2 linked regions of the Homo sapiens genome follow. The protein of the gene in region 2 purifies or fractionates together with the protein of the main gene of each other region. This does not show direct contact. Each region holds a gene or a part of one and is shown on either strand. Other genes may lie near its edges.

The links. The genes of interacting proteins can lie anywhere in the genome.
Region 1: the proteins of PBDC1 (region 2) and PTPN23 fractionate together in Homo sapiens (co-fractionation; one large-scale study listed by BioGRID). This does not show direct contact.

Annotation. Positions count from the first base shown.
Region 1 is NC_000003.12:47,383,904-47,387,855, reverse strand, and holds part of PTPN23 (tyrosine-protein phosphatase non-receptor type 23), read right to left. Parts: intron 1-3,952. UniProt on the Homo sapiens protein: Plays a role in sorting of endocytic ubiquitinated cargos into multivesicular bodies (MVBs) via its interaction with the ESCRT-I complex (endosomal sorting complex required for transport I), and possibly also other ESCRT complexes.
Region 2 is NC_000023.11:76,175,310-76,179,814, reverse strand, and holds the end of PBDC1 (protein PBDC1), read right to left. Parts: intron 4,343-4,505; coding exon 4,202-4,342; intron 2,935-4,201; coding exon 2,823-2,934; intron 2,200-2,822; coding exon 1,907-2,199; coding exon of another isoform or gene 1,798-1,906; 3' UTR 1,501-1,797; downstream 1-1,500.

The DNA of each region.
Region 1 (3,952 bases), on a different chromosome or scaffold from region 2:
CCTGACTCCAGACCTAATATTAATCCCTCTGTGTCACCTTCTCTTGTACTAGTATGTTCTCATTCTTCTATGTATGCTTTGCTCTTAATTTAACATTTGGAATTTCATCATGCTAATTAAAGCAATAAGACAAGAAGAAAAGGCAATTAAAAGGCATCACATGTGTTAGTTTTACCTTTATTCACCAGTTACATTATGTTTCTTTTTTCTCCAGTTCCAGAGTTGACTCAAATGTAGGGCATTCCTTGGGCTACTCTAAGAAACAAACTTTTTTTTTTTTTTTTTGAGACAGGGTCTCTGACACCCAGGCTGGAGTGGCGAGATCTTGGTTCACCACAGCCTCGACCTCCTGGGCTTAAGCCATACCCCCCACCTCAGCCTCCTGAGTAGCAGGGACTACAGGTGTGTGCCACCACACCACGCCTGACCTTTCTTTTTTTTTTTTTTTTTTTGTAGAGACAGGGTCTTGCTTTGTTGCCCAGGTTAGTCTCAAACTCCTGGTCTTGACTGATCCTCCTGCCTTGGCCTCCCAAAGTGCTGGGATGACAGGCATGAGCCAACGTGCCTGACCAGTATTGTTAATTAATACAGTATATGTTCAGCTACTAAATTTCAAATGAGACTAATTATATTCAGAGAATGGCGTATTGCCAAGTGAAATCTTCAGCTCCTTGGTCCATGTCAGCAAGCCTGAAAGAAAACCGCCATAGGCCAAGAGTACTGGGGATAAAAACATACCTTCATCCTCCCCTTGTCTAATCCCTACAATAATACTCAAGGCCTCGTTCCCACATCTTTTCTGAATGGCCCCTTGCCTGTCTGAACAACACAGTGAGGAAGACTCAGGTTACCTCTCCCAGAAGGTCCTAGAACTAGACTAGGTCATTCAACCAATGCTTGTTAAGCACTCCCTATATACAAATATTTTATTACGTCCTGAGTAAAGGAAAGAATCTGGTCTAAACTCTAACTGAAATGGATATAGGCCTCTGGTGTATGAGATTCAAGTCAGAGAATAATGGACAATCCAGGTCATCTGTGCCTGGAGCTGTTCCGCTGCAAATACAAGTGAACAGACAGGCTCAGGCAACTGGGTGACTCCAAATCTGTGACAAGAGATAAGACAGGTCACCACCACAGGTAACAGGCAATGTCCCATGCCCCTCACTGCTGAGCAGCCAGAGGCCTTTTAGGCCTCTAGTCCTCTTATTTACCTTTCTATGTATGTGTCTGTGTATGTACATACATGTGCAAGCTAGTTTTTCAAGAGCCAGCCATCCCATGGAAAATCTGGAAGGGGAAAAAATTCCATAAGCCTGAAAAACCAGGCTTCTACCCGGATGTGAATAAAATGAACAGTAAAAAAAAGGCAACAAGAGTGTGCACTGTGGGCTGGGCACGGTAGCTCATGCCTGTAATCCCAACACTTTGGGAGACCGAGGTGGGCAGATCACTTGAGGTCAGGAGTTCGAGACCAGCCTAGCCAACACGGCGAAACCCCATCTCTATTAAAAATACAAAAATTGGTTGGGCGTGGTGGTACACCCCTGTAATCCCAGCTACTCGGGAGGCTGAGGCACAAGAACTGCTTGAACCCAGGAGGCAGAGGTTGCAGTGAGCCAAGATTGCACCATTTATACCCCAGCCTGGGTGACAGAGCGAGACTCTGTCTCCAAAAAAAAAGAAAAAAAAACCAGCGTGCACTCTGTGGTGCAGGCTAACCCAGTGGTGGACAGCAAGACAGTCTGAATTCAGAGGAGGGAAAAGTTCTTTCTTGTTTCTGGCCCAAACACTTGCTGGGTGGCTGAGAGGACCCTAATGACGTACAGTTCAACCCATGTGATAAACAGGAGGAAGGGAATTCCAGTAAGGGCCTGAGCAAGGGCAGTGACCAGATGTGGAAGGAAGAGAAGCTGAAAGTTCTCATAGGAGAGGACTGGGGAGTGAAGTTAGAGAGACAGGCTGAAGCAAGCTGGGGACAGGCCATGAGCAGCCTGATGGGAAAGTAGAGATTTAGAGATCAACTCAGCCAGAGTGGGAGGATGGGAGATGAAGAGAAGCCAAGTGACAGGCAGGGTGGCTACCAGCCAGATGTACACCTGCACTTGAGGATGAGGGTTACTGTGTAGATTACTAGGAGGTAAGTTTCATGAAGACAGGGTTTTGTGGTGTTTTTTTGGAGACAGGGTCTCACTCTGTCGCCCTGACTAGAGTACAGTGGTGTGATCTTGGCTCACTGTAACATCCACCTCTGGGTTCAAGTGATCCTCCCACCTCAGCCTCCTAAGTAGCTGGGCCTACAAGGCACGCACCACCATGCCCAGCTAATTTTTGTATTTTTAGTAGAGATGGGGTTTCATCATATTGGCCAGGCTGGTCTCAAACTCCTGGACTCAAGCAATCCACCTGCCTCAGCCTCCCAAAGTGCTGGGATTACAGGTTAGAACCACTGCTCCCAGCCAAGACACAGGTTTTTGTCACCACTGTACCCAGGGCTGGCACATGACAGGCACTCAATAACTATTTGTTCAATGAATGAATCAGGGATGAACGTAACAGCTCAGTCCAAGTAAGCTGGACTTGAGCTCAAGTACAGCTGGTTAAGGGCAAGTGTTTGGGCCAGAAAGAATAAAGAACTTCAAACAGAAATACCTGAGGCCAAATCACTCACTGATAAAGAGGACAAGAGTCATCCATCATCAGTTTCCAGTGAATCAGCACTCTGGCCTCCAAAGCACAAGTTAAGAAGATGCAAGGCCAGCAGCATTTCCCCACTAAAAAATTACGTGGGTCTGGCTGGGTGTGGCGGCTCATACCTGTAATCCCAGCACTTTGGGAGGCCGAGGCAGGCAGATCACCTGAGGTCGGGGGTTCAAGACCAGCCTGACTAACATGGAGAAACCCCGTCTCTACTAAAAATACAAAATTAGCCAGGCGTGGTGGCACATGCCTGTAATCCTAGCTACTTGGGAGGCTGAGGCAGGAGAATCGCTTGAACCCGGGAGGCAGAGGTTGTGGTGAGCCAAGATGGTGCCATTGCACTCCAGCCTGGGCAACGAAAGCAAAACTCCATCTAAAAAAAAAAAAAAATTCACACGGGTCCAATATCCTAACCTAAAGTTTGCCACTGCAGTTCAAAACCATCCTGTTTTTCTGGCTTCTATTTCACATTATGCCATAATGGAAGGCTTGTCTACTGGGAGTGAAAATCAATACTAGCCACCATGAAAGATTTGTCAAAAGCCCAGCCCTCTCAAACAACGAACCCCTTTACCTGTCTGGAAAACTCCTATTCATCCTTTAAAATCCATCTCTGGCAAGCCTTCCCTGATGGCCCCTCCTCAGGCTGGTATTTCTATACACTGCAAATACTTCTACTCTTTTTTTTTTTTTTTTTTTTGAGACAGTCTCGCTCTATCACCCAGGCTGGAGTGCAGTGGCACGATCCTGGCTCACTGCAAGCTCCGCCTCCCAGGTTCACGCCATTCTCCTGCCTCAGCCTCCCGACTACAGGCACCCGCCACTATGCCTGGCTAATTTTTTGTATTTTTAGTAGAGATGGGGTTTCACCGTGTTAGCCAGGATGGTCTTGATCTCCTGACCTCGTGATCTGCCCGCCTCGGCCTCCCAAAGTGCTGGGATTACAGGCGTGAGCCACCGCACCCGGCCTACAAATACTTCTACTCTTAATGTCATCACTATAATTTTTAAATTTCCTTTATGAATTCCTTGAAAAAAAAAAAAGGCTGTCTCTTACTTGTCTGCTTATCAAGGTTCAGCATAGTACTTAACCAGTTGATGTAAACAGAACCAATTTTCACCCTTCTATTCTAAATTAAATTCTAACCCTCAGCTCCAATTCACTGGCAGAGGTTCCCACAGCTCAGAGCAAGCATAAAGCAGGACAAGGGTGCCAGTGGCAGAAGGCAGAGAAGGGGCTCTGCAGTTGGGG
Region 2 (4,505 bases):
ACTCATTTTATGAGGCCAACATCATCCTGATACCAAAGCCTGGCAGAGACACAACAAAAAAAAGATAATTTTAGGCCAATATTCCTGAAGAACATCAATAGGAAAATCCTCAATAAAATACTGGCACACCGAATACAGCAGCACATCAAAAAGCTTATCCACCACGATCAAGTCAGCTTCATCCTGTGGTTGCAAGGCTGGTTCAACATATGCAAATCAATAAACATAATCCATCACATAAACAGAACCAATGACAAAAAACACATGATTATCTCATTAGATGCAGAAAAGGCCTTCCATAAAATTCAACACCCCTTCATGCTAAAAACTCTCAATAAACTAGGTATTGATGGAACGTATCTCAAAATAATGAGCTATTTATGATAATCCGACAGCCAATATCATACTGAATGGGCAAAAGCTGGAAGCATCCCCTTTGGAAATCGGCACAAGACCAGGATGCCCTCTCTCACCATTCCTATTCAATGTAGTATTGGAAGTTCTGGTCAGGGCAATCAGCCAAGAGAAAGAAATAAAACGTTTTCAAATAGGAAGAGAGGAAGTCAAATTGTCTCTGTTTGCAGATGACATGATTGTATATTTAGAAAACCCCATCGTCTCAGCCCAAAATCTCCTTAAGCTGATAAGCAACTTCAGCAAAGTCTCAGGATATAAAATCAATGTGCAAAAATCACCAATAAACCAAAAATAGACAAACAGAGCCAAATCATGAGTGAACTCCCATTCATAATTGCTACAAAGAGAATAAAATACCTAGGAATACAACTTACAAGGGATGTGAAGGACCTCTTCAAGGAAAACTACAAACCACTGCTCTAGGAAATAAGAGAGGACACAAACAGATGGAAAAACATTCCATGCTCATGGAGAGAAAAAAATCAATATAGTGAAAATGGCCATACTGCCCAAAGTAATTTATAGATATAATGCTATCCCCATCAAGCTACCATTGACTTTCTTCACAGAATCCCCGTCTCTACTAAAAATACAAAAAATTAGCTGGGCATGGTGGCACGCACCTGTAGTCCCAGCTACTTGGGAGGCTGAGGCAGGAGAATCACTTGAACCCAGGAGGCCAAGGTTGCAGTGAGCCAAGATTGTGCCACTACACTCCAGCCTGGGAGTCAGAGTAAGACTCCATCTCCAAAAAAAAAAAAAAGGGGGTAGCTACTCTGTCTGGTTTTCCCTTTTTTTTTTTTTTTTTTTTGCTAGCTTTCAGGTAACATTCTGGCTACCAAAAGAAAAGCAAATACTGAAGCATGTCCAGTCTCTTGCTCTTCTAATATGAACTGGGCTGCATTCACTAGTTTGACAGGTTCAGGTTGCTGCTATTTATCAAATATTTTGTCATATATAGCAAAGAAATCAGGGAGTTATAGTCACTCAGAGATTAAGAGTCAATTCTTATGTAAGGACTTCTAATCCCAACACCAGGTATAACTTAACAAGTTTAGAGAACTTCACTACAGGAAACAGTGAGAAGCAGTAAGAAACAGGAGTAAATTATCTTATATAAGACATGGTGATGAGATTACATATTTGAAAAAAATTTCAAGTGTCAAATACCTTTTTAAAGTCAGTCACAGATATAGATAATAAGAACCAAAAGAAATTTATTTACAAATTTCTTACTTGACCAGTAGTGTCAGCCAAGAAACAGTATACCAGGAAAAATCAACTAACACCCCACTAACAGTCTTTAGACCAGTTCATACAAGGGAATGACCAGAGCAGCTCCTGACTGTTAGACTAGAAAGATGTCCTTCTGCGTATCCTTCAATTGTACAAGAATTTACATTTAACCAAAGGGGTCTGTGCAAGTAGCACCGTGGTACTTGTAGTCTCAATTGAGTCATAGCTTCTAGAGTGCTGTTCCCTGTATACCTTACATAGCTTTTTCACCACTTTTGTTGATTTCTTTGTCAGCTTCTTTCCCTTTTTCTCCTCCTTTGTCAGTTTTGTCTTCTCTGTTGATTCCTTCCTCTTTTTCTTCTCCACTATCAGCTCCTTTCTCTCCTCCATTCTTGGTGTTCTCTTCTTCTCCACTGTCAGCTCTTTTTTCTCCTCCATTGTTGACTCCTTTCTCTCCTTCTTTGTCCTGAACACTGATATAAACAGCTTTGTTATAGCCTTCCCGGTTCCGAGCAATTTCAATGGCAAAGAATTGTATCCTGGGGGCTGAAAAGTGAACAGAATTGATTATCATCCTACTCTCAGCTTATTCCCTAAATCTCTTTTTTTTGAGACAGGGTCTCACTCTGATGACCAGGGCTGGACTGCAGTGGCACAATCACAGCTTACTGCAGCCTCAATTTCCCTGGTTCAAGCAATCCTCCTGCCTCAATCTCCTGAATAGCTGGAACTACAAACACTCACCACTATACCTGGCTAATTTTTTAAACATTTTTGTAGAGATGGGGTCTCCCTATGTTGCCCAGGCTGGTCTCAAAATCCTCAGCTCAAGTGATCCTCCCATGTCAGCCTCCCAAAGTGCTGGTATTACAAGGCATGAGACACTGTGCCTGGCCTGTTCCCTAAATATGCTGGAAATCTACTGACAAAATTGAAATAACATGCAAACCATTCCAGTATAGTCATAAACTTCAGAGATCTTTAATTCCAATCTCATATTAATGAGATTGAAAATACTTAACTATCTTCAAGTTACATAAAAATAGCAACAAGATCTTTAAAGATGAAACAAGATAAGGTGACCTAACTATACACATCACTGATTCATCAGTAAAGCCAGACTGTTCAGTCTCCTTACACAGAAACAATTCCAGAGGGAAGAAACTCACCAAAGATGGTGTTTTCCTCAGTGTAGCCCTGAGAACAATCTAGTCGCAGCAAAGTACCATAGTTGAAGTCTTCAACAATCCCATTAAACTTCAAGCAGAATGGCCTCCACTTCTATAAAGGCAAAAACGATGCTTTAGCTGACAAATGCAAGAGGCTGACGTACTAAGGCCAGGAGAGGGACTTCCATTTTCCCAGTAAGGAAAATAATCATAGTGAGACTGGGATTGAGGTGATTGTTGGTTTCACAGTGAAACTAGCAATGCGTTTCTGTGCTACCTATTGTGTCTTTAGACTGCCATTTCCCAAGATGAACAATATTTTACTCTGAAAAATATATAAATCCTTTACTGCAGAATTAAAATATTATTTCTTAAGTCAATTGTTTTGTTTTGAAGTTATTGGTCAGTTCAGCCCAAAATGGTCATCTATCCCCACTAAAACACAAATGATTTTAATAAAGAAGTCCATTCAGTAGTGACAGTTTTCCAAAGACAAAGATCACTAACTGCCTGCTAGGAGTTAAAAGTGTAGTTTCTTGGCTGGGTGTGGTGGCTCACGCCTGCAATCCCAGCACTTTGAAAGACCGAGGCGGGCGGATCGCTTGAGCTCAGGAGTTTAAGACCAGCCTGGTCAACATGGTGAAACCCTGTCTCTACCAAAAATACAAAATATTAGCTGGGCATGGTAGCATGCACCTGCAGTCCCACCTACTAGGGAGGCTGAAGCAGGAGGACTGTTTGAGCTTGAGAGGCGGAGGTTGCAGTGAGCTGAGATGGCACCACCGCACTCCAGCCTGGGCAACAGAGTGAGACCCTGTATCAAAAAAAAAAAACCAAAAAACAAAAAACAAAACAAAACAAACAAACAAACAAAAACTTTAGATTCTTCATTAGCCAAGGGTTTACTCTCAAGGAAAACATTTTTTTCCTAACTGTAAATGTGTTAGTTTCCTATCAAAGTATAGGATAATCACATAAGCAATGAAAAACAAAAGTTTTCCAGTTACCCATGGCCTGTAATCACATGAACTTAAATCCAGAGAATCAAAACACCTTCCTATACCCTATTTGCCACTCCCCATCCAAGCCTTCTGGCTATACTACCTAAATAAACTGATCCATCCTCCTCTGAAAGGGCTGATGGGTGGAGATTTAAAATGTCCAAGACAAAAAGGAGAAAAAAATAGACTCAACAACATGAAAAGTCCATAAACTGGAAAAACATTCATTTCCTAACTTAGTTGATTACAACTAGAAAAGAAGTTCTGGTTCTTTACATATTTTTCTCAAACAAAAAAAGAGCTTAAATGTAAAAAAACATTCGCAATCAAAAATTGTTGGTTAAATGCTAAGTAATATTTAAGAAAGAGAATTTTTACCTCTTTGGCTGATTCTGACTTGAGTTCTTCTGGGTCCAACACATCTATCCTAAGGGTCTCAAAATTTTTCCGGAACTCAGAGTAAATTTGGTCATCTACTTTGGTGAGTTTCAGGAACTGTGGGTCAACTGATGAAATCAGCTGCGAAACAGTAAGACAACATACAGATGCTAGTCTGTAATTTACTATACTTCTATCTTCCCCATCCCCACCAGAAAACCTTTATGGTTCTCAGGGCAGAAGATCTCTTCAGGAAGTGTCGACAGTCTACATCCTAGATGAAATCATGACACAGTTTAAGGCC